Linked DNA regions of Homo sapiens. The protein of the gene in region 5 interacts with the protein of the main gene of each other region in a pairwise test. Each region holds a gene or a part of one and is shown on either strand. Other genes may lie near its edges. The genes, in order: CSAG2, ZBTB38, FOXO1, CREBZF, SIRT1, RRP8 and FOXO4.

The links.
Region 1: the proteins of SIRT1 (region 5) and CSAG2 interact in binary tests that used the Homo sapiens proteins (3 or more experiments, as listed by UniProt).
Region 2: the proteins of SIRT1 (region 5) and ZBTB38 interact in binary tests that used the Homo sapiens proteins (3 or more experiments, as listed by UniProt).
Region 3: the proteins of SIRT1 (region 5) and FOXO1 interact in binary tests that used the Homo sapiens proteins (3 or more experiments, as listed by UniProt).
Region 4: the proteins of SIRT1 (region 5) and CREBZF interact in binary tests that used the Homo sapiens proteins (3 or more experiments, as listed by UniProt).
Region 6: the proteins of SIRT1 (region 5) and RRP8 interact in binary tests that used the Homo sapiens proteins (3 or more experiments, as listed by UniProt).
Region 7: the proteins of SIRT1 (region 5) and FOXO4 interact in binary tests that used the Homo sapiens proteins (3 or more experiments, as listed by UniProt).

The regions. Positions count from the first base shown.
Region 1 is NC_000023.11:152,707,737-152,710,893, reverse strand, and holds CSAG2 (chondrosarcoma-associated gene 2/3 protein), read left to right. Parts: upstream 1-1,620; 5' UTR 1,621-1,781; coding exon 1,782-2,095; intron 2,096-2,253; coding exon 2,254-2,323; 3' UTR 2,324-2,633; downstream 2,634-3,157. UniProt on the Homo sapiens protein: Drug-resistance related protein, its expression is associated with the chemotherapy resistant and neoplastic phenotype. May also be linked to the malignant phenotype.
Region 2 is NC_000003.12:141,371,412-141,375,081, reverse strand, and holds part of ZBTB38 (zinc finger and BTB domain-containing protein 38), read right to left. Parts: intron 1-3,670. UniProt on the Homo sapiens protein: Transcriptional regulator with bimodal DNA-binding specificity. Binds with a higher affinity to methylated CpG dinucleotides in the consensus sequence 5'-CGCG-3' but can also bind to E-box elements (5'-CACGTG-3').
Region 3 is NC_000013.11:40,660,018-40,663,687, reverse strand, and holds part of FOXO1 (forkhead box protein O1), read left to right. Parts: intron 1-3,670. UniProt on the Homo sapiens protein: Transcription factor that is the main target of insulin signaling and regulates metabolic homeostasis in response to oxidative stress.
Region 4 is NC_000011.10:85,657,426-85,659,756, reverse strand, and holds the end of CREBZF (CREB/ATF bZIP transcription factor), read left to right. Parts: 3' UTR 1-1,767; downstream 1,768-2,331.
Region 5 is NC_000010.11:67,904,986-67,908,655, reverse strand, and holds part of SIRT1 (NAD-dependent protein deacetylase sirtuin-1), read right to left. Parts: intron 2,494-3,670; exon of another isoform or gene 2,402-2,493; coding exon of another isoform or gene 2,369-2,401; intron 1,867-2,368; coding exon 1,719-1,866; intron 611-1,718; coding exon 531-610; intron 1-530. UniProt on the Homo sapiens protein: NAD-dependent protein deacetylase that links transcriptional regulation directly to intracellular energetics and participates in the coordination of several separated cellular functions such as cell cycle, response to DNA damage, metabolism, apoptosis and autophagy.
Region 6 is NC_000011.10:6,594,530-6,597,722, reverse strand, and holds the end of RRP8 (ribosomal RNA-processing protein 8), read left to right. Parts: 3' UTR 1-2,651; downstream 2,652-3,193.
Region 7 is NC_000023.11:71,098,839-71,101,599, forward strand, and holds part of FOXO4 (forkhead box protein O4), read left to right. Parts: intron 1-1,845; coding exon 1,846-2,761. UniProt on the Homo sapiens protein: Transcription factor involved in the regulation of the insulin signaling pathway. Binds to insulin-response elements (IREs) and can activate transcription of IGFBP1.

The DNA.
Region 1 (3,157 bases), on a different chromosome or scaffold from region 5:
TTCATTGAGGAGTAGTATCAATGTCTGGTTATATATATATATATATATATATATATATATATATATATATATCCATTCACCAAATGAAATACATTTTGGATGCTTCTATTTTTGGTGATTATGAAATAAGCTATTGTATACATTCATATACAAATTTTTATGTAGACATAAGTTTTCAAATCAATTGGGTAAATTGATTGAGTATGGCTGCTGAATCTTGTGCTAAGTCTATTTTCATTTTTTTAAGAAAACGCCAAACTGCCTTCCAAAGTGGCTGTGCCATTTTGCATTTCTACCAGCAATGAAGGAGAGTTTCCGTTGCTCCACATCTTCGCTGGCAATTGTTCTTGGTCTTGTATTCTTTGTTTTGGTTTTCTATGGATTTTGGACATTCTGATAGGTGTGCAGTGGTATCCCATTTTAGTACACAATTATCTAATGCCAAAGGGTGCTCAGTACTTTTATTATGCTTATTTGCCATGTGTATATCTTCTTTTGTGTAGTGTGTGTTCAGATCTTTGACTATTTTCATTTTTTCTATCATTGAGCTTTAAGAATTCGCATATATTGTAGAGACAAGTTCTTTATCACATATGTGTACCGCAGATGTTTTCTGCTAGTCTGTGGCTTCTGTTTTCATTCTCTTAACATTGTCCTTTGAAGAGCATAAGATTTTTATTTTAATAAAATCAACTTGGCAAATTTTTCTTTCCTTGATCATGCTTTTGGTGTTGAATTTAAAAACTCATCACCAAACTCAAAGTTATGTGGATTTTCTCTTATGTTTTCTTATAGAGGTTGTATTGTTTTTGCATTTTTCATTAGACCTATGATGTATCTTGAGTTAGTTTTCATGGAATATGTAAGGATATGTCCAGGTTATTATAATTTGTGTATAGGTGTCTAATTGTTCCGACACCTTTTGTTGGAAAACCTGTACTTTCACCATTATTGCCTTTGTTGTGAATCACCTGACTATATGCGTGCAGGTCTATTTCTGAGCTCTATTCTGTTTTATTAATCTGTGTGTCTATTCTTTGCTAATGCTTATGTCCTCCACCAAATTCATATTTTGAAGCCCTCAGCCCCAGGGTGTCTGTATTTGGAGATGAGGCTTCTAGGGAAGTGATTAATGTTAAAAGAGGCCATAAGGGTGGGACCTTGATCCCATAGAATTAGTTTGGTTATAAGAAGGGAGAAGAGACAGAAGAAAGTACTTTTGTGCCTACATGACCTTTCTCTCTCTCTCTCTCTCTCTCTTTCTCTCTCTCTCTCTCTCTCTCTCTCTTTCTTTCTCTCTCTCTCTGCACATGCACAGAGGAAAGGCCAAGAATGGACAGATTAATAAAGGGCCATCTACAAGCCACGAATAAGGCCATCACCAGAAGCCAACCCCGCCAGTCCTTGATCTAGGACTTCCAGACTTCAAAACTGTGAGAAAAAAAATAAATTTCTGTTGTTTTAGCTACTCACTCAATGGCATTTTGTTATGGCAGCCTGAGCTGACTTAAGACATAACTTCAGGTGACACAATTTTTTTTTGTTTCCTCCTAGAAAAAAAAAAAGTAATTTTGACATTTAAAGTCTGTAGTTCATTTTGAGTTACATTTCTGTATGGTGCAAGATATGTGCAATGGCTAGTACTATGTGTCAACTTGTCTAGGCTATACTGCTCAGCTGTGTGGTCAAACAGTAGTCTAGATGTTGCTGTGAAGGTATTTTGTAGATGTGATCAACATTTACAATCAGTTGATTTTAAGTAAAGCAGTTTAACTTCCATAATGTGGATGGGCCTCATCCAATTAGTTGAAGGTGTTAAGAGAAAAGACCAAGGTTTCCTGGAAAAGGAATTCTACCACAAGACTAACATAAAAATGCGCTGTGAGTTTCTAGCCTGCTGGCCTGCCTTCACTGTCCTGGGGGAGGCTTGGAGAGACCAGGTGGACTGGAGTAGACTGTTGAGAGACACTGGTCTGGTGAAGATGTCCAGGAAACCACGAGCCTCCAGCCCATTGTCCAACAACCACCCACCAACACCAAAGAGGCGAGGAAGTGGAAGGCATCCTCTCAACCCTGGCCCAGAAGCCCTATCAAAGTGAACGGCCCACCCAAGCTCTGACTCCTACCCTGTCCTCCCCTGGCACAACCCCCACCCCAGCCTGCACCATTTCTCTATGAAGCCCCTGTTCTCACCCCTCCTCCATCCTCTTCCCCAAACCAGTGCCCTTCTTTGATCTCCCTGTTTCCTTCTAGGTTCCCAAGACAACCCGGAAGGGAAAAGGGACCCATCAAGGAAGTTCCAGGAACAAAAGGCTCTCCCTAAAAGACCGCCGCTTCAAAAAAACCTGAGGAATGGAGTGGGCCAACACTATCCAGCCACTCTGACCAGCCGAACGAGGAACTCAATCAAAATGAGCCATAGCGGGACCACAAGGGCAAGGAGACCACCACCTTCTCCAGTCTCTCTTCGGACAGCCAGTAATTCCCGGGCAAGGCCAGAGACTTCAAGTCTATCTGAAAAGTCTCCAGAGGTCTAACCCCAGATAAATAGCCAACAGGGTGTAGAGTACATTTTACACCCCAAAGAGTGTGCCCCATGGTGATGAAAATAAAGTGAACATGTTGCAAAATGATGTGTGTGTCTGTGTGTCTCAAATGGTAGGGGTAGGGAGTAAGGGGAAAGAGGTGGGAGTGTGGGAAGGGAGGGGGGCATCCTCTACAATTTCTCTAATTCAACTTGCTCTTCGTTCTTTGGTTTCCTAGGGTGAAACTTTTGGTTATTGATTTTAGATTTCATTTTCTAATATAAACATTTAAAATATGCTATATATTTCCCTCAAGGACACACTTTAGCAGAATCCCACTTTTTGTATGTACATTTTTACTTTCATTCAACTTAATGTATTTTTAAAATTCTCCTGGGACTCCCTCTTTGACCCATAGGTTATATAGGAGCTTATTTTAAAATTTCCAATATTTGGGCATTTTTCAGATATCTTGGTGTTTGGTTTTGAGTTTAATTATATTATGGCCTAAGAAGAGGCTATCTATTATTTCTATTCTTTTCAATTTGTAAGCTTTGTTTGATGGCCCAGAATACCATCTATCTTGGGAGATATTTCATGCACACTTGAGAGGATTGTTTATTCTGCTATTG
Region 2 (3,670 bases), on a different chromosome or scaffold from region 5:
ATGTTTGCCAACTGAATATTTGTTGAACTGAATGCAGCATGTCAATAGTTCTCAGGCATTAATGCAGAAGAATTGGGAGGGCAGGTTAAAATGCATATCCCCAGGCTCCTCCTCAGAGCTTCCAATACCACTGGGGCCTAGCAGCATGCATTTTAATGTGAGAAACTAAAAAAGACCAAGGTTTTGAAATAGACATTCGTACCTTTCTAGGGGCCAATTCACCAATATGCATTAGAAACTTTAAAAATAGTAGAACACTAAAGTGAATCAAAATGTCCAACAACAAAAAACTGATACATTAAAATGTATCAGTGCAATGGAAATAGAGCCATTAAAAATCATGTTTTCAAAGACCATCTAGTGATTTGGTAAAATGTTTACAACATAATGTTAAATGGGGGCAAAACACCACATAAAATACCATCTCAACAATTTTTAACATTTTGATGTATTTTTTCCAATTTTTTTCTTGTATATATTCTTCTCTCTTTTTAAAAAGGAGAGAATGGGGTGGGGTTGGGGTGAGGGGTTATACTAATGCTCTTTTGGACAAAGATGAGGGGTCCACTCTCTCCACTCTGGCTTGGAAGGCACTACCCAAGGTCAATGCCTCCGTGGAGGAGTTTCCAAGCCTCCTTATCCCAATGCACTGGGAGCCCCATAGAATGCCAGGAATCATCTTCTTTTGGCAGAGAGATGACTCATCCATCATTCCTCAAAGGTTTCAGTGAACCCCAGGTTAAATGTCCCTGTGAATAAGATCAGAAGCCTCTCCATGGGGAGTCTGGCCTACAATCAAACATGCTTTGGCTAGTTAGAAGTGATGCTAAGGCTCCCAGATGAAAGTCAATTTAGAAAGACAAAAAAATCTTTAAAATAATGATAATAACAATATCAAAAGTCAAAGCACCAATACTGACCATAATTATGATGATTATTTTTTATCAACACTTTTTTTTTTTTTTCCTCTGTTGCCTAGGCTGGAGTACAGTGGCCCAGTCGTGGCTCACCACAACCTCCGCCTCCTGGGTTCAACCAATTCTCATACCTCAGCCTCCCAAGAAGCTGGGATTACAGGCATGTGCCACCAAGCCCAGCTAATTTTTGTATTTTTAGTAGAGGCAGGGCTTCACGATTTTGGCTGGGCTGGTCTTGAACTCCTGGCCTCAAGCAATCTGCGCACCTCAGCCTCCCAAAGTGCTGGGATTTCCGGTGTGAGCCACCACTCCCGGCCTTTATCAGCAGTTTACCTTGACATGCACTTTTCTAAGTTGCCCATATCATTTTGCATATATCACCTACTTATTCTGACAGAGTCTCAGCATTACATTTTCTAACAATACTATTTTGGAGGTAGGAGGGAGCTTTAAAGTTCTGATGAAAACCAGAAGCTTCTTGAGTTAAAAACAAAACCCTGAAGTGTGGTATTTTCCAACTTGGTTCTTGACAAGAAATTAGGGGATTTCAGTGTGAGAAATTATAAAGCCCTATTACTATGAATTCTTAGTTTTGGTGAATATGATGTGGTATTTCTGCAAAACTCTCTAAGGAGAGTGACAGAACATTCATGATGCTGACCCATGGGGAGAAAGGAGCTTGCACACCTGTGCTATGACAATTCTAAAACCTCAGGGATTAAAATACTCAACTAGTGTAAGAGCTGCCTGTGTGAGACTGTGTGCTCAGTCCACATCTGCTCATCATGGCTCAACAAGGCCAGGCTCAGATCTTTAGATGACCTAAGCTCTGAAAAGACTATAGTGCCTCAAATTTGAATTATTACTCCCATGTGAAATTAAAATAGAAAAAAATAACAAAATACAAAATTAAGGTTGAGAAAGCTCAACAAAGTCTAACTTTTCCCAGGCTGTCTCCTTTGATGCTTTTTTTGAAATGTCAAATATCAAAATATTTACAAAATGTGTGTTTGTACACAATCCTGCTTTGCTGATGTTGTCTGTGAGGTCACTCAGCATCCAGTGGTCACAGGGATCTATGGCTTTCTTTCAAACACAAAGTGTTGACAGTAGTGAAATTCTGGTACCTGATGTGGTGGTCTTACTCCCCTTCCTGTAGTAATATGCAGCTAGAAATTAGAAATCAGGAGGCTGGCCCCCTCCCCCAACCCTAACACCATTCATATGTCAACTACTGCATACTTAGTGCTTTGAGGAGTCATAACAGATGGTAGTTGAAATTAGCAAGCTGTGATTAGCCATTCTCCCACATGAATGGACCCTGATGTTGACTGAGACCTTTGGCTCTGCCCTTCCTGAAAGACTCTGTTAGGCTAGGACTTCCAGCAACACATCATCCCCATTTGGCTCCAGCTTTTGAAATCTGGCACATATTCTTAACTTATTCCTTCAACTGCACCCTTCTAGCAGGCACTGTATTCCCCATTCACCTGGTCTTTTTTTTTTTTTTTGGAGATGGAGTTTCTCTCTTGTTGCCCAGGCCGGAGTCCTGTGGTGTGATCTCGGTTCACTGCAACCTCTGCCTCCCAGGTTCAAGCAATTCCCCTGCCTCAGCCTCCCAAGTAGCTGGGATTATAGGTGTGCGCCACCCTGCTCGGCTAATTTTGTATTTTTTTTTAGTAGAGATGGGGTTTCACCATGTTGGTCAGGCTGGTCTTGAACTCCTGACCTCAAGTGATCCACCTGCCTCGGCCTCCCAAAGTGCAGGGATTATAGGCATGAGCCACCATGCCCAGCCCAACCTGGTCTTATCATTAGCTTATACCACTAGCCCAGCCAGCTCCCCGATCAATAGACACTTTCAGTTCCTAACAACTTGGAAAGACAGACTTTCAGAGGCTGAAGTATTTTTGCAGCAACTCATCTTGTTATTCTATTCCATTCCTCCTCAGCTCCATCCTAATGTAAGGGGACTGGGCAGAGGCTAGGCAGCCATAACAGGAGAGTAGGCCAGGCATCAGCCTCTGTCAGATATCTGAGAAGCTGTGGCAAATTGGCCAGTAACAGGTATCCCCACACAACAGACAATACATGCTCTTCAGGGTGTGGATGTGGGTGCCAGAAAGGTCAAGTCCAGGGGCAAAAGTCAATCAGAAACCAGAGTGTTTAGTCAGATATTGACAAAACTAGAGAACTAGGTACCAGGCACCTCAGGCAAAGACTTGAGTTCATTTTTATTTCACACCTTTAAGTCTGGGGCATCACAAGGCACCCATCATATGGTTTATATTTACGAATGAGGGGAATACTTCACCAACATCAACAATGGTTAGAAGGTTACATAAAATGTTAAACTTATTAAAAGTTCTCCAAACAGAGCTTACAACTTTACCACTTATTATTTCAGTAAATGTTTTGAAACTTTTCCTGAAAATAAAAAGCTAGACATATATATCACATCTTTTGGGGTAGCATTAATAGCCCCAGCCTGAGACTTTTTAGTCTACTTTTAAATGTTTCTCGGCTGGGCCCGGTGGCTCATGCCTGTTATCCTAGCACTTTGGGAGGCCAAGGTGGGTGGTGGATTGCTTGAGCCCAGGAGTTCAAGACCAGCCTGGGCAACATGGTGAAACCTTGTTTCTACAAAAAATACAAAAATTAGCCAGGCATGGTGACACATGCCTGTAGTCTCAGCTACTTGGGAGGATCGCTTGAGCCTGAGAAGTTGAGGCTGCAGTGAGCCATGATCGTGC
Region 3 (3,670 bases), on a different chromosome or scaffold from region 5:
TCTTACCGTTAAGTTCAGCATATATTCTATTAAGTCACAAAATCGAAATTGTCTGCCAAATCTTGTTTTACTTAACATTTGAATTTAAGTACTTGACTTACTTGCTCATCTATCAATTCCACTTCAGCTGTTACAGAGTATTAGCCATTTAAAAAAAAAATCCTCCCCCCTTTTTTTGCATTCAAAGTACAGTGTGTACTTACACCATTCTTTAGTCCTTGGAAATGGATACAACCTACTTCAACTTGCTGGAGTGCCTTTCTTTAAAGATAAAGGAAGTGTTTTGGGATATTTTTAGTTTTGCGTCTCAAATGGCATTGTCAGAGTGTTAGTCTTAAACTAGGAATATGCTTACACTTTTTAAGATTTAGGTTTTTAAAAAATAGATTCTGATGTTAAATCATCTTTACAACCATTTTTATCAGGTTCTTGTTCTGATTTTTTTAAAAATGCAAGAATAATTTAGTTTTTTTTTAAATTTATTTGCCAGAGCTAGGAGACCTGTTAAGTTATCTGTCTGGAATTGGAGGCCCTTGGGCAGCTCCCAGTGGGAGCCTAATGGGGCTTTGCTTTGGAGTAGGCTGCCTTTCTCAAATGAGTAAGTGTTTCAGGTGTAATGTCAGTTGGTTTAAGTCTGATTGCAGCAAGTACATTTTCAGTTTGAGTAAAAGGGTATTTTAAGAAGAAAAGAAACAACCTGAGCTGTTCTAACTCATAACTAGTCTTTTGGTTAGTTTCATAAAAATGAGTTACTTGTTAAAACCAAGTTTCACTCTCAGATCTGAAAGACTCCTGTTCTAAGAGTCATAAAAGAGAAATTTTACTATGAATTTTAACTTAAATCCAGTTTTTAAATGCAAAGCAACCAAAACTTAACTGTTTTAGGACCGAGGAGAGGTTGCTTTGGCACAAAATATTTCCTGTGATTTACTACTGGGAATTAGGCTGAATCTTTAATTAAATAGTTTCTTGTGTGCTGCTTCCTGGGGCCTGCCTGAAAGTTTGAGTCATTTGCATAGGACAAACTAGTTGGAAAACTGTTAATGAATTCAAAAACTTTTAATGTCATTCTTTAGATAGTTAAGTGCTGGTTATATTTGAAGGATATGCATTTTGTGTTTGTGGGGATGGTATGTTAAATGTCTTACACTTGTTGTAATATTGGCTAGAATTGCTATAAGGTCACACACAAAGTGGAACCTAAGACTTTTGGAAAACCCGGGATCTTCTAAATCTAGTGCAGTATTTATAAATAATGAAACTTCATTTCCATGACCTGTTTTTTCACATAGAAAGCCTTCTAAAGCTTGGGAAGTGGTAGTTTGAACTCTGATTTTTTTTAATAAATGGCAGTTTTGAGTTGACTCTTTTGATATTATTAGGAACACTTTAGGTTAAAAGAATGACTTTGACTATACCACTTAACTCTTGTTAAATAAATTTTTAGATTGTTTTATTAGAGGTATCCTCTTTGATTTAAAGATAAATATCTTTTTTTTTTTTTTTTTTTTTTTTTTGAGTCAGAGTCTCACTCTGTTGCCCAGGCTGGAGTGCAGTGGCGCAATCTCGGCTTGCTGCAACCTCCGCCTCCCAGGTTCAAGCAATTCTTCTGCCTCAGCCTCCCGAGTAGCTGGGACTACTGGCACGTGCCACCATGCTTGGCTAATTTTTGTATTTTTAGTAGAGAGGGGGTTTCACATATTGGCTTGGCTGGCCTCGAACTCCTGACCTCGTGATCTGCCTGCCTTGATCTCCTAAAGTGCAGAGATTACATGCGTAAGCCACCGTGCCTGGCCCCAAAGCTTTTTATTTTTAAGATAAATCTTTAATTGGGAGTGATGTTTCTTATTTGGCCTATGAACTGACAGTGGATTTCCTTATGTTTTGAAATAAATATTCTGTAATTTGGGTATAATCTATAGGTGAGTAATTGAACCAGCCACAGAGATCCCGTTAGAAAGATGGCTGCTTTTTTGTTGCATGGTCACATTTGACTTAGAGAATCCTGGTGAGACCGAGTGGTTAGAGGATCTGAGACATCTTTCCTACTTCTGGATTGTCACTGAAATTACCTTAAAGAAAGCCTTGATAGGCTGGGCGTGGTGGCGCACACCTGTAATCCCAGCACTTTGGGAGGCTAAGGTGGGCGGATTGCCTGAGCTCAGGAGTTCAAGACCACCCTGGGCAACATGGTGAAACCTCATCTCTACTAAAATACAAAAAATTAGCCGGGTGTGGTGGCAGGTGCCTGTAGTCCCAGCTATCGTGCCAATAATCCCAACTACTCGGGAGGCTGAGGCAGGAGAATCGCTTGAACCTAGAAGGCGGAGGTTGCAGTGAGCCGAGATCACGTCACTGACCTCCAACCTGGGCAACAGAGGGAGACCCTGTCTCCAAAAAAAAAAAGAAGAAAGCCTTGATAATCCTGTATATGTACTTGGGGAAGCGATAATGAAGAAATAATTTAAAATGGATGAGGGGGTTATGCAGCTAAATGTAGCATCTTATTAAGGGCTGAAAGTTACCTGAATCTATTTGAGAGCTAAAACATTTTGTTCAGAAATTCCAAAATAGATGCCAAATTGGAATACTTCATTTCAGACTCCCAAGAGCTTTACTTTTTACGCATGGTTTTGTGGCATGTCCTTGGTTGAGGGGATGGCGAGAAGAGTGGCCTCTTTTTGAATGATTCTCATTTTTGTTGTTGTTGTTGTTGTTGTTGTTGTTGTTGTTGTTGTTTTTCTGAGCCAGGGTCTCACTCTGTTGCCCAGGCTGGAGTGTAGTGGCTTGATCTCAGCTCACTGCAACCTCTGCCTGCCCCTGGCTCAAGTGATCCTCCCACCTCAGCCTCCCGAATAGTTGGGATTATCGGCACGAGCCACTGCTCATGGACTAGTTTTTTTTAAGTGACAAACACTTGACTATTGAAAATAAGGCATTTTAATTCTCATGTAAACTTGAAAAAAGTTAAAGGTCTTCAAGATCCCAAAATTGCTGAAAAGGTATCACATTAGCAGCAGACACATAGATTTCATGCTCCGCACACACAAGGAATCTTCTCCGAGGCGATACGAAATGGGATGAGGGGGAAGAATATTCAGTGGCAAGTTAGAATGCCTTGCAGACTGTAAACATGTTGCCTGTCCTTGTGCTTCTAGCCCCTTCATCCAAGCATCTAAACTGCAGTTTTGTGTTAGGCTTTCTAAGATAGCAGCTGTATTTGGCTGGAATTTCTCTGGGGAAGCCTGAATGATTTGCATTTTTCTGGAACACTCTGCCCTTGGAAACTACCCAGTTCCCTGGCATCATGGGAATTTACCCAGCCATTTTTTTGGCCTATATGTGCTGTAGCTTTGGGGCTTTTTGGGGATCCTCTTGGAAAGGCAGTGTAAATACCACATAGTGATTGGGGAAGGCAGAATTTTCAATTGTGTGGGAGTTGGTCTGCTTCCCTGCAGTTCAAGATTTGCCTTTGCCTTTGTAGCAACAACTTGCAGAGACTTGCCCAGCCCCCCCAGGATCTCCCTGGGGTCATATAACCAAGCACCTTTTCTTGGTACATAAAGAATTCTGATGCTTCTGGTGGTGTTCCTCAGCTGTGAAACAGAAGACCACATGTACTTGAAAAAGTATGTATTTTGATGCCTAAGGGATATGCTGTGTACAAATA
Region 4 (2,331 bases), on a different chromosome or scaffold from region 5:
AATTGAAATATTTTTTCAGTTTATTACAAGTGTGAAAAAACACTCAAAACTCTGGATTGTTTTATTTCATTTTTGTTGGATTATGTTAATACATTCCTTCACGTGGTTTAGATTGAGTCATTTTATCTCACTTACTTGGAAATGTGCAGCTGATAGAAGAGGGATTGGGTAGGAGATTGGCTTTTACTTCATAATAAATATACAGTTGGTTATTGTATTATTCAAAACTTATTAAATCCATTCAGTTTCTTACCATTTTAAGTGTATTCAGTGCCTGTGAAGCCAGGCAGCAGAGTATTCCCACTGGCTTAAAACTTAGGCGCTGATGCTCCTACAGTACAGCTAGTTATAATTCCAGAACCAAAGGCACCAACATTATTTGGTGACCTTAACTACTACTTTGATAGAACAGACTGGGTAATTCACTGATAATGAGTCATTACCTTTTTAATATGTGATTATCTAGTTCAGCATTTTGAATGTGTAGTTTAAGGTCTGATTTAGTAAAATTTTAAAGCTAAATAATCTGATGACTCTTGAAAGTTTAATTGGTAGTATGACATTTATGTTTTTTTCCCCCAGACTCACAGCCAATACAAAGTTTTGAGACTCCTAAATGTTAATATTTTTGCTGTTTTTCTGAGCTGTTTTTTTATTTACTTACCACCTAAGCTGCGGATCAAAAAGGGAATTCTTCCATTAGAAATTTGTAGTGTTGTGTGGCCAGCACAGTATTTTTCAGATTTGAATTTCAGTACCTCTGTGTAGCCTCAGTACTCTCAACACCAGTCACTCTTTATTGTCTTAAAATATTCCATACTTTTTGTTGACCCAAAATTGTTGAAAATATTTTGCTCAGTTTTCACAATGAACTAATTGAAAAGTGTAGTTACTGTGTTGTAAACATTTGTGTAGTTCTGTTAATACACTGATTTGAATTTTATTTATCTCAACTTCCTTTAGCGTCTGCCTCCAAATTTTGTCTTTGCTGTATACCCACTGAGATCAATTCCCTAGACCCCTCTGGCTCTTAGTGTACTATAATTTGGGCTTTATAAAATATATTGTCTTAATTTAAATAGAATGTGAGCCCTCTTTTTTTTTTTTTAAGCCAAATAACTACACAAAGTAAATTATAAAAGATTTAAATAGTTTGTCTACAGTGACTAGACTGAAATATAAAAATTGATTGAGGGTAGTTTACTTCAGGTGTTAGCTACAAATGACTAAATGTCCTTAAATAATGCAGATATCTGCCCTCTGAACAAAAATTTTGGCAAAGTAAATTTGTAGCAACAGACTTAACATGATTTATTGCTTATGTTGCCCATTTCTGCTAATGGAAAAGATAATTTAAAAATATGTGGCAGAGGACAGATATTAGAAATACTTTTTGGTTACAGAAACCATTGTAAACTCATCCTCATTTATAAATGGTATTATGCTAGGGAGTAATTGGACTAGGAATGTTTAAAGATAAGTAAGGAAACAATGTGTGCTCAATCGTCAAAGAACTTAGTTATATCATTGGGCTTTGAATTATCTAAGTTGATTACATAATTCTATATTCTTAAGGAGTCTTAACTCGGTACTTGGGTTAACGCCAGAAATTACTTTTAATTCATTGTTTTTTTCACTGGGATGAGTAGAACTCTGCTTTTAGTAAAAGTGACAGAATATAGGTAAAATGGATGATTTGGGATCAGAGCTTTTCATCTTGATATTTTAGCCTGTAAAATAAACAGCTATATTGTTTTGCCCTTTAAATGTTATATATATTTTTCTGTCTTTCTTTCCCTAGTTGTAAAAGTAAAGCATATTCTTTATAGAAAACTTGGAATATCCTGAAAGGAATCAAGAAGAAAAGAAAAATCACCCTTATAACTCTATAAGCCATAGAATATCCACAGTAAACATTTTGGCATGCTTCCTTTCAGTCTCTTGTGCACATAGATTCTTTTGCCTCATAACTGGGATCATTTTTTATATAAGTTTGGTAGATAATATATTTTATGTGCCTGTTGAAAGAACAAATCATCTTTGCTTTCTGAAAAATTGAGATTGTATTTTATTAATTTCACATGAGTTTTTCATCTTTGGCAGCACAGCTTTATGTTTTTCTTTAAACAGAAGCTAAAGGCCAGTTTCACTCACAAAGATGCCTTTTCTAAATTATAATTTTAAGTAGCATAAGATGACTTAACAGATATGTCACTATTTGGAAGTAATAATTAAGAGATTCATGAATAATCTTGGATGCCACTTAAAATTTTGTTTGGTACTTTTCTGTGATGATTGGCTTGCTTCATAAGTGTTGGTTTAGATCTACGC
Region 5 (3,670 bases):
CTGGGATTACAAGCATGAGCCACTGCACCCGACCAATGACTCCATTTTAATATACTATTCTTCCTCTTTCGTAATGACATGATTACCTCCATATATTGCTAAGCACACAGGACATATTTCTGGATAATTTTTATTTTCTGCCAAATTTTCCTATATTTTTTGGCAATGAACATGTATGAAATAATTTTAGATTACCATAACTAATTTAAGGTCCAAATCTGACAGGCACAAAAAGGGAGAGGAAGGAGAAAAACTACTACAACAACAACTTGCTTATGATCTGACATTTTATGTTCGGCTTAGATACTAAGAAGCCAATTTCATAATTTGAAGAGCCTTTATAGGGCTGTTTTCTATATAAGGTATTGAAAGGTTCTCGTGTATTTTACCAAAATTCCCAAATGCTAACTATTTTCTTCCTGAATCTTTCTGTACCATATATACTTTAAAGGGGTAAAAAAGGATTTTGAGGCAAAAGAAGAAATACTTCAGAGACATGAACAATTCCTAAAATATGGGCAACAAATTACCTGATTAAAAATATCTCCTCGTACAGCTTCACAGTCAACTTTGTATTTACAAATCAGGCAAGATGCTGTTGCAAAGGAACCTAAAAACAAACAACATATATATGCTTTATTAAAGAAGTATTTCTGTTTCTTGAACACACCACAAACGTTATAAAGTTTAACATCACAAATGTTAAGAGGGTTTAAGGATTTTTGTTTTTGTTTTTAACTTTGATTTTAAACCTCAGAACACACTGCAGATTTTGTGATATACTACAGGAGAATCTAGGGGATGAAGAATTTATATATTTATACATAGAATGAATATGATTCTCAATCTCTGAGACACTAATATAATGATGCCTTCTAAAGCTACTCTTTTCAACAAAACTGTAACAGCTCACTCCTCCAGGGCTAAAATCCTGCAGAGTTGGACAGTTCCAACTCTATTACCTTAGCTCGGCAGTTCTTAGAAACACTTTAGATACCTAATGGCCTGTTGATACTTGTTTTAAACATTTCTGAATCTCTGAATCCTGTACATCTCAACTATCCAGTTCTTTTAGTTTCATAAACTAAAGATGTCACATTTCTTCATTAACAGCTAATACTACTCTTGTATTCAGAATTTCTTTTTCTTTTTTTTTTTTTTTTTTGACAGAGTCTCACTGTCTCCCAGGCTGGAGCGCAATGGTGCAATCTTGGCTCGCTGCAACCTCCAACTCCCAGGTTCAAGTGATTCTCGTGCCTCAGCCTCCTGAGTAGCTGGGATTACAGGCGCCTGCCACCATGCCCGGCTAATTTTAGTATTTCTAGTAGAGTTGGGATTTCACCATGTTGGCCAAGCTGTTCTCGAACTCTTGGCTTCATGGGATCTGCCCGCCTCGGCTTCCCAAAGTGCTAGGATTACAGGCGTGAGCCACTGCACTCAGCCAGAAAAGATTATTTAAAATAATTGAATGCATGCAACTGCAGCATCTTTTGAAATCAAAAGCAAATTAATATCTGAGGTTTTCTATAATTAACTGTCAAGGCCAATACTTCTGTTTTTATTATTTTTGTTTTCTACTTTTCTGAGGTTATCGATAAATGAGATAACATGATTAAATAATGCTTTATCTCCACTTCTCGATGGCAGTCAGCTTTATAGGAAATATCTTCCTATAAAACTAAAATAAATTACAGAAAACCACTCTGAAGTTTACTAACCATGACACTGAATTATCCTTTGGATTCCCGCAACCTGTTCCAGCGTGTCTATGTTCTGGGTATAGTTGCGAAGTAGTTTTCCTTCCTTATCTGACAAGGCTATGAATTTGTGACAGAGAGATGGCTGGAATTGTCCAGGATATATTTCCTGTATCAAGCAAATGGTAGAAAAAATTTACATTAGTGAAATAAACTACAGATGTCATATGTTTAACAAAAAAATACTGATAATCCCACACACATAATTTTAAAAATGAAATAGATGAGCATTTTAAAGTATCTAGATGGATGCGACACACACCTACAAAAGGACGGTTGCTGTCATATGCATAAAACTCAGCAATTAGTGAACTTGGCCCCTTGAAGAAAAAGACAAAGTCGGCCCATAAACATCTCTAAGAAATGTTGATATTTTAATAAAAGTCAGAAGTAATACAACCTTAGGATATCTAATTTTTGTTGGCTGCAAATTCAGATTTTTTTCTTTAAAGAAAAATGGGAAAGTTTAAACTAAAATTACAGATATCAAGGTAGGGTGATTTAAAAAAAAAAGCACTGTCAATACAAGAATATTTAAAATTTTTTTTTGATTTATCATTCATTAGAATATCAACCTGCTGGAAGTTTAAAGCTAAAGTTTTAATCCTTACCAAAATTGTTTTCCTTCCACTGCACAGGCACATACTGGTATAGTATAGAGTTGCTCATGAATGCTGAGTTGCTGGATTTTGTGTGTGTGTTTTTCCCCCCAAATAATGCTTCAATGCTGTTTCTTCTTTAAAAACAAAGAATTCAGATATACACATGGCAAAAAGATCAGAGAAAAAGTATCAATTTTGGTCCTCCCAACTTTTGACAGTGTTTTTATTAAATTCCATTTAGTAAGTGACTATGGCAAAGGAAGTTTATTCTCTACTTTTTCCTTCAAAGTAGTAGTGCTATCATCTACTTACTTCCTTACCATTCATTACAGGCTCTAATCTATCACAATGCTAGCAAAAAACTAGACACAACCATATGTCCATCAATAGGGAACCGGTTGTATAAATATGGTACATCCATAATAGTGGAATATGTAGCCATTAAAAAGAATTGAGGGAGATCTAGATGAACTGCCCTGGAAAATGGTTCATGACATACGTGAAAAAAGCAAATTAGTCACCAGTATGTGTAACTTTTGTTTTTGTTACTAAGCAAAAATTGAAATTATATGCATATGTATATAGAGATGTCCATTTAATCAATCAAGTCAGGAAGGATACAAACAGGCTGTAAGCAGATGTGGGGAACTTTCACTTCTGACATTATACAAAAAAGTTTAATAGAGATTAAAGATGACTTTTTACCTATTTAATCTTTCAAATTAAAAAAAAATTCCCACTGCAACTTCTAGGTTCTACTACCCAGGCTTCTAAGTAAAACTTAAGTGAATTCCGTTAACAGCTATCACATACATGTACACATGCTGCTAAAAACCTCGTATAAAGAATCCAAAAACGTTGCCTTAGATTCAAATATTTATCACAAATTTCATGAATAACTCTTTGCAATTTAAGAAATAGAGAGTGCATATAGTAGCAAGGGAAAAGCTTAATAAAGTCAATGTTTACAGAAAATCAAAAGCCACTGTTTTGGAAAAGTGAGTTCAGTTAAATCAACCACTGTTTTCTTCCCCAGAATGCTTTGTTCTAGTACATTTACATTTGAGAGATTAAGCATTGTATGTCTCATTAAAGCTCCCTCTGGAAATAGCTTTTAGAGTATTTTAGGCACTATGAGAATATGCTAGGCAACAGATAAAATAGGACCTATAATAGTAAGCAAGTGATAATAGCATGCCAAATGCAGAATTTAAAAAATAAAATAACTCCAAAGCAAGGTCAGGGAAAAAGAGCAAGTACCAAGACTCCACCGTCCCTGAATTAACTGTGTGCCTTATCCACGTCCACCCC
Region 6 (3,193 bases), on a different chromosome or scaffold from region 5:
GACGGGGTTTCACCATGTTGGCCAGGCTGGTCTCGAACTCCTGACCTCGAGTGATCGGCCTGCCTCGGCCTCCCAAAGTGCTGGGATTACAGGCATGAGCCACTGTGCCCAGCCAGTGTTTTTTTTTTTTTTTTTTTTATGGGAGGATGGGCAGGTTGTTAGCTGTCGAGTGCTATTGAGATGAGAGAGAACTCAGAATGCAGTGGGGTAAGGATTGCTGAGTAATGTGGAGGGCCTGTTTGAGGTAAATGGCAGTGGTAAGAGGTTGCTCCATTATGAAAGCCCTCTTCCAGAGTTCCTGATAGGGCCCCAGAAGTTCATTTCTGATTGCTTTGATTTTTTTTCAGGGGAGCAGGAAGCCAGTTTATCATTTGAGAGTGAGAATAGGGGAGAGGAAATATCTTCCAGGCCCACAGTGCATAGAAATACCCAGTCAGGGCAAAATGATTTATCTGTTTACCTCTCCTCATCACTTGGGCCCAGAGCAATCAGCAGTGATTAGGTAGAGAGGAGCCGAGCAGAGGGAAGAGCATACCAATCACTCCTCCCTTTCCCAGTGCAGGCTCCTAGACTTAGCTGGGGCAGAGCTGGGAGAGGAAAAAGGGATTTAAAACTGCAACAGGTGCAGATTATTGTTACACAGGATTAGACATTCTAATTAATTGAGATTATGTTTGTTCCTTAAACTGATCACAGGACTATCTATTAAGAACATCACAACCTCGCTGCAGCTTTTCTCCATAGCAGGGAGAGTACCTCCCAGTGAATAAAATTTGGAGGGTGGTAAGAGACAAGAATAAAATTGGGTTTGGTTATCCGTGCCTCATGCTTGTTCAGCATCCCTTTGAGAGTTCTCCAAATAAATAGTTACTGCTTCTGCAGTTATTGGTGTGCTCCAGCTTCTGTTCCCATAATATAGTCCAGTCCTAAGGGAACACAGTTCTAAAAGAAACAACATGATCTTGGCAGAGACACCGCTCAGCTCCAAACCCAACCATTTATGTAACTGCACAAAACTCTCTACAGCTTTTCACAGAGACCAGTAATTAGAACCTTTCATCCCCTGGTCATCCTCCTTCCCAGGTGAATTCTCTGACCAGCCATCTGGTTTTAGGATACCCAACTCCTGCAGTAACTGCCTTACTGGTGGTCTAATTGCTTCTACTCGTGTCCCTAAAGCAATTAATTTTCCACACAGCCATGTGATCTTTTTAAAATGTAAATCAGCTTATGTCACTTCTCTGCTTAAAATCCTTCAATGGATTCTCACTGCCTCGAGAACAAAAGACAAACTTTTCAGGCCCCGTGTGATCTTGCCCAGGCCTCCGTCACCATCACCATCTGCATCTTAACCCACTCCTCCCCTTTCACAAAACTCCAGCCACACAGACTTGCTTTTTATTCCTCAAGCTTTCCAAACTGTTTCTACTGAGAGTCTTTGCACATGCTCCATCTTCCTTGAATACTCTTTCCCCAGTGAGCTCATTTTCATCTTCCTGAATTCATACCACTATTACCTTTGCTTCTGTGGAAGAAACTGGCCAGATGCTCACCCAAATGTCCTCTTTCTGGACACAGGTAAACTGCATTTCCCAGCTCCATGCATCTAGGCCTATGTGAGTAGTTCTCAACAGTGGAAAATGAGTGGAAGTGATGTTTCAATACTAGACCAAGGCAGTTAAAGGGTGGCTGAGCCATTTCCATTATTCTCTTCCTCCTTCCTCTTCAAGGTAACCTTGAAGCACATGTTTTGACGGTGATGGAGTCATAGCATAGAAGAAGTCTGAATACCTGAGTTACTATTTAGGGCATAATAGCTACTTGACCAAAAACATCCATATTGGACTTTGAACAAGAAAATAAACTTGATTACATTCTGCTAGTGAGTTTTGAGGGTGTTTTAGCAGTTATCATTATATACACTGGATATATCTTCTATGGTATCCTGTCCACCTTACTCTTGACCACAGTACCCTCTTTGTTTCCTTCAGGGTGTTTCAGATATTTAATTATCTTGCCAGATGCCAGTCAACACTTTCTTTTTGTCCCATGAGTTTAAAATCAGGGGAAAACATGTACTCCCAATAGGAAGTTGAGATACTCTTTTTTTTTTAAATCCGTCATTGTGACTGTGACCGGAAAAACAAATCCCACTAAAGAATGTCCTAAACAGATGTTTTTTTTTGTCATATAACCTGGAGTTAGGTGATTTGGCATTGGTTCTGGAGCTGAAGGATGTTAGGGATGAGGTCTCTGTAGTTTTCTTGTCTCATGGTCACGAAATGAAGTGTTATTGATTAAGCAGGGATGCCCTACTTAGTATTAGACTTCTTGGAAGTCTCCTTAATTGCCACAGCCCCTATCTTTTTGGCTTCGTTTCAAGGGTCCTTCTACATTGTTAATACTCTGGTATAAATACGTTCCATTATTCCCTATAACATGACTGAAACCAATCTAAAGTATTAACATTTTAAATATGTTTTTGGGCCAAGTGCAGTGGCTCTTATCTGTGATCCCAGCTACTAGGAAGGCTGAGGTGGGAGGATTGCTTGAGCCCAGGAATTTCAGGCTGTAGTGAGCTATGATTGTGCCACTGTACTCCGGCCTGGATAACTGAGATCCTGTCTCAATAAATAAATAAAACAATTATATATATGTATAATATATAATATTATATATACATATGTATGTATGATGCTTTTCATCCCCACCCTTTCCCACATCTCAGGAACCTGTCAGCAACTTATCCAGTTTAAAGCTGCTGTTCCTCTACCTCAGTGGTTTGGGAGAACATGGTCATTATTTCACTCATTCTTTACTTCCTGTCTCTTCTAGGATTGGAATGGGGGAGGGCATATTAAACGAAGAAAGTCTCAGCTTACGTGATTAAGGTACCATTGGTGTGTTCTGTGCAGACAGGCATTTAACTGTTGACTCCTTTGTGAGCTCTTGGGGTTCTCTGGAGCTCTCCATGAGGACTGGGGCACTAACTGACTTTGGTTGCCTCTTTTTGATGCACAGCCCACACTGCCCTTCAGCTCTTCAGCCCCTGACCCTGACAATGTACCCACAGCCTCCTCGTGCTAAAGTGCTTCACCCTTGTACGCAGCTCTCCTGGGAATGGTCCCAACAAACCCTCAAGACTGGTTACCTTTCATGGAACCCACAGGAAATGCATGCATATTTGTCCTGC
Region 7 (2,761 bases), on a different chromosome or scaffold from region 5:
GTGCCACTCCTTGAAGGAACATCAGCACAGTTGAAATGCCATTACCTCAGGGTCCCAGGAACACAAGGAGTTCTTTGGCTAAAGAACCCTGGAACAAGAAGCATCATTCCCCAGGCAAAGGTGCTCCTTATCTTAAGAGCACCAGTCAGAGAAACAAGTAGTTTCTGACCGTCCCATGTACTCAGCCTCCTAGTTGCTCTAAGCACTTCTGGGCTCCTCCTGAATTTCTAAACTAAAGACCTCCAAGTGGGAGGTCAAATGCCCCCAAGGTTGAAGAGTTTATGCACAAATTCCTGAGAAATGGGGGAAAGGCACTGGGAAGGAGGTAGGGAAAAGAAGGCAGGTTTCGGGAAGGGGGGTGGCCAGGGGAGGGCCAAACCCCTTGTGTAACTAGCCTGCCCCGCGGCAATCAGTAAATATAAGCTGCACTGGGGGCTGAAGAAGCTGCCAATCTCAGCTCCCTGGGCCACTGGAAAGCATCGTTTCCCTAGTAGAATGTCACCAGTGAGGGAGGAAGGGAAAACATACAGCTTCCAATACCCAAGGCACTGAAGAGCTGGCAGAGCCTCAAGGGGAGCCTCACCATTGTCAACCCAGGGGCAACCCACCAATCAGGTACAAATATTGATTATGTACTGTGAGCTTGAGTAGGTATAGAATATGTGCTGTGAGCTTGGTGCTCTGGGAGGGCTTTGATGGGGGATGTGGGACTGGAGGACATTACACTTGGCACTTACACTCGATGAGACGAATTACATGAAACCATAAGCCACACAATATAAATTGGGTGAAATTGTGTGGCGCAGATTTTAAAAATACTATACTAGAAATTTGGCTGCCAAAGTCAAGCAGCCGCTTTATAAAAGAGGTGGAACTGAAGCTTGGTCTTGACGGAACTAGTAAAACTTAGAGAGGGGAGATCCCTCCTCGGAAAAGAGGGGAGGGGAAGATTGCACCTCACGCATTTGAGGCACAGCAGGAAGCCTGAACCTGAACTGAATGTAGTTGAGGATGTGTGTTGTGGATTGGAAGAAATAAGGCTGGGATTCAGGGAGGGGGGAAAAAGGAATCTTTAAATTCTATAGAGAGCTGGGTGGCCCAAATGCTCTGTGGGGAATGGAGCACCTGCTGTGCTGAGATTCCAGCCCTTCAGCCTATTCAGAGAACTGGCTCTGGGCAGGGCGGGTCCATCCTGGGCTGGTGCTGTACCACTGTCCCGTAAACTCTACCCAAACCTGCACTCAAGGAAAGGGGTGCAATGCTCTTTCCCACCTGAACCTAGTTCTTGCTGGGCAAGGAGCACGTCTCCCCAGTGCCCACCAGCCCCAGGTACCGCTCCCCCCACCCCCCGCAAAACACACACGAAGCCCTGGGAAGAGCAGAGTACCAGGAGCTTTTCCAGGGTGGGCATCCCCCGTGCTCTCTGCAGTGGATTATTACACGTTATCTCCCACCCGCTGTACAGAGAAGTCTGGAGCAGAGGCTGAGCAGCTTGTCTGGGAGCGGGAAATGTGTGTGGTCTCCCCTCACACCCCACCCCCACCCCTACTTCTACCAGTTTTCCCCCCTGGATTCAACTTTCTTTGAGTCTCCAGGAATACCCCTGCTGTGTTCCAGCACCCTTTTATCTTTTATCTTTTTCTCTTTTTTTGTAAATTATTTAAAGTTTTTCTTAAACTTTAATGACCTGGGAAATGAAGCCCCGAAATGAACCCTGCTGCGGTGGTGGCACCAAATCCTAAACCCTAGATCATCAGGGTCCAGCATCCTCTTAGACTTGACCGCTGGCCACTGACCTCCCCTACAGTACCTCACGCCCCTTTCCTGCCATCTCTGCCCCTCCAGAACTCGATCCGCCACAACCTGTCCCTGCACAGCAAGTTCATCAAGGTTCACAACGAGGCCACCGGCAAAAGCTCTTGGTGGATGCTGAACCCTGAGGGAGGCAAGAGCGGCAAAGCCCCCCGCCGCCGGGCCGCCTCCATGGATAGCAGCAGCAAGCTGCTCCGGGGCCGCAGTAAAGCCCCCAAGAAGAAACCATCTGTGCTGCCAGCTCCACCCGAAGGTGCCACTCCAACGAGCCCTGTCGGCCACTTTGCCAAGTGGTCAGGCAGCCCTTGCTCTCGAAACCGTGAAGAAGCCGATATGTGGACCACCTTCCGTCCACGAAGCAGTTCAAATGCCAGCAGTGTCAGCACCCGGCTGTCCCCCTTGAGGCCAGAGTCTGAGGTGCTGGCGGAGGAAATACCAGCTTCAGTCAGCAGTTATGCAGGGGGTGTCCCTCCCACCCTCAATGAAGGTCTAGAGCTGTTAGATGGGCTCAATCTCACCTCTTCCCATTCCCTGCTATCTCGGAGTGGTCTCTCTGGCTTCTCTTTGCAGCATCCTGGGGTTACCGGCCCCTTACACACCTACAGCAGCTCCCTTTTCAGCCCAGCAGAGGGGCCCCTGTCAGCAGGAGAAGGGTGCTTCTCCAGCTCCCAGGCTCTGGAGGCCCTGCTCACCTCTGATACGCCACCACCCCCTGCTGACGTCCTCATGACCCAGGTAGATCCCATTCTGTCCCAGGCTCCGACTCTTCTGTTGCTGGGGGGGCTTCCTTCCTCCAGTAAGCTGGCCACGGGCGTCGGCCTGTGTCCCAAGCCCCTAGAGGCTCCAGGCCCCAGCAGTCTGGTTCCCACCCTTTCTATGATAGCACCACCTCCAGTCATGGCAAGTGCCCCCATCCCCAAGGCTCTGGGGACTCCTGTGCTCACACCCC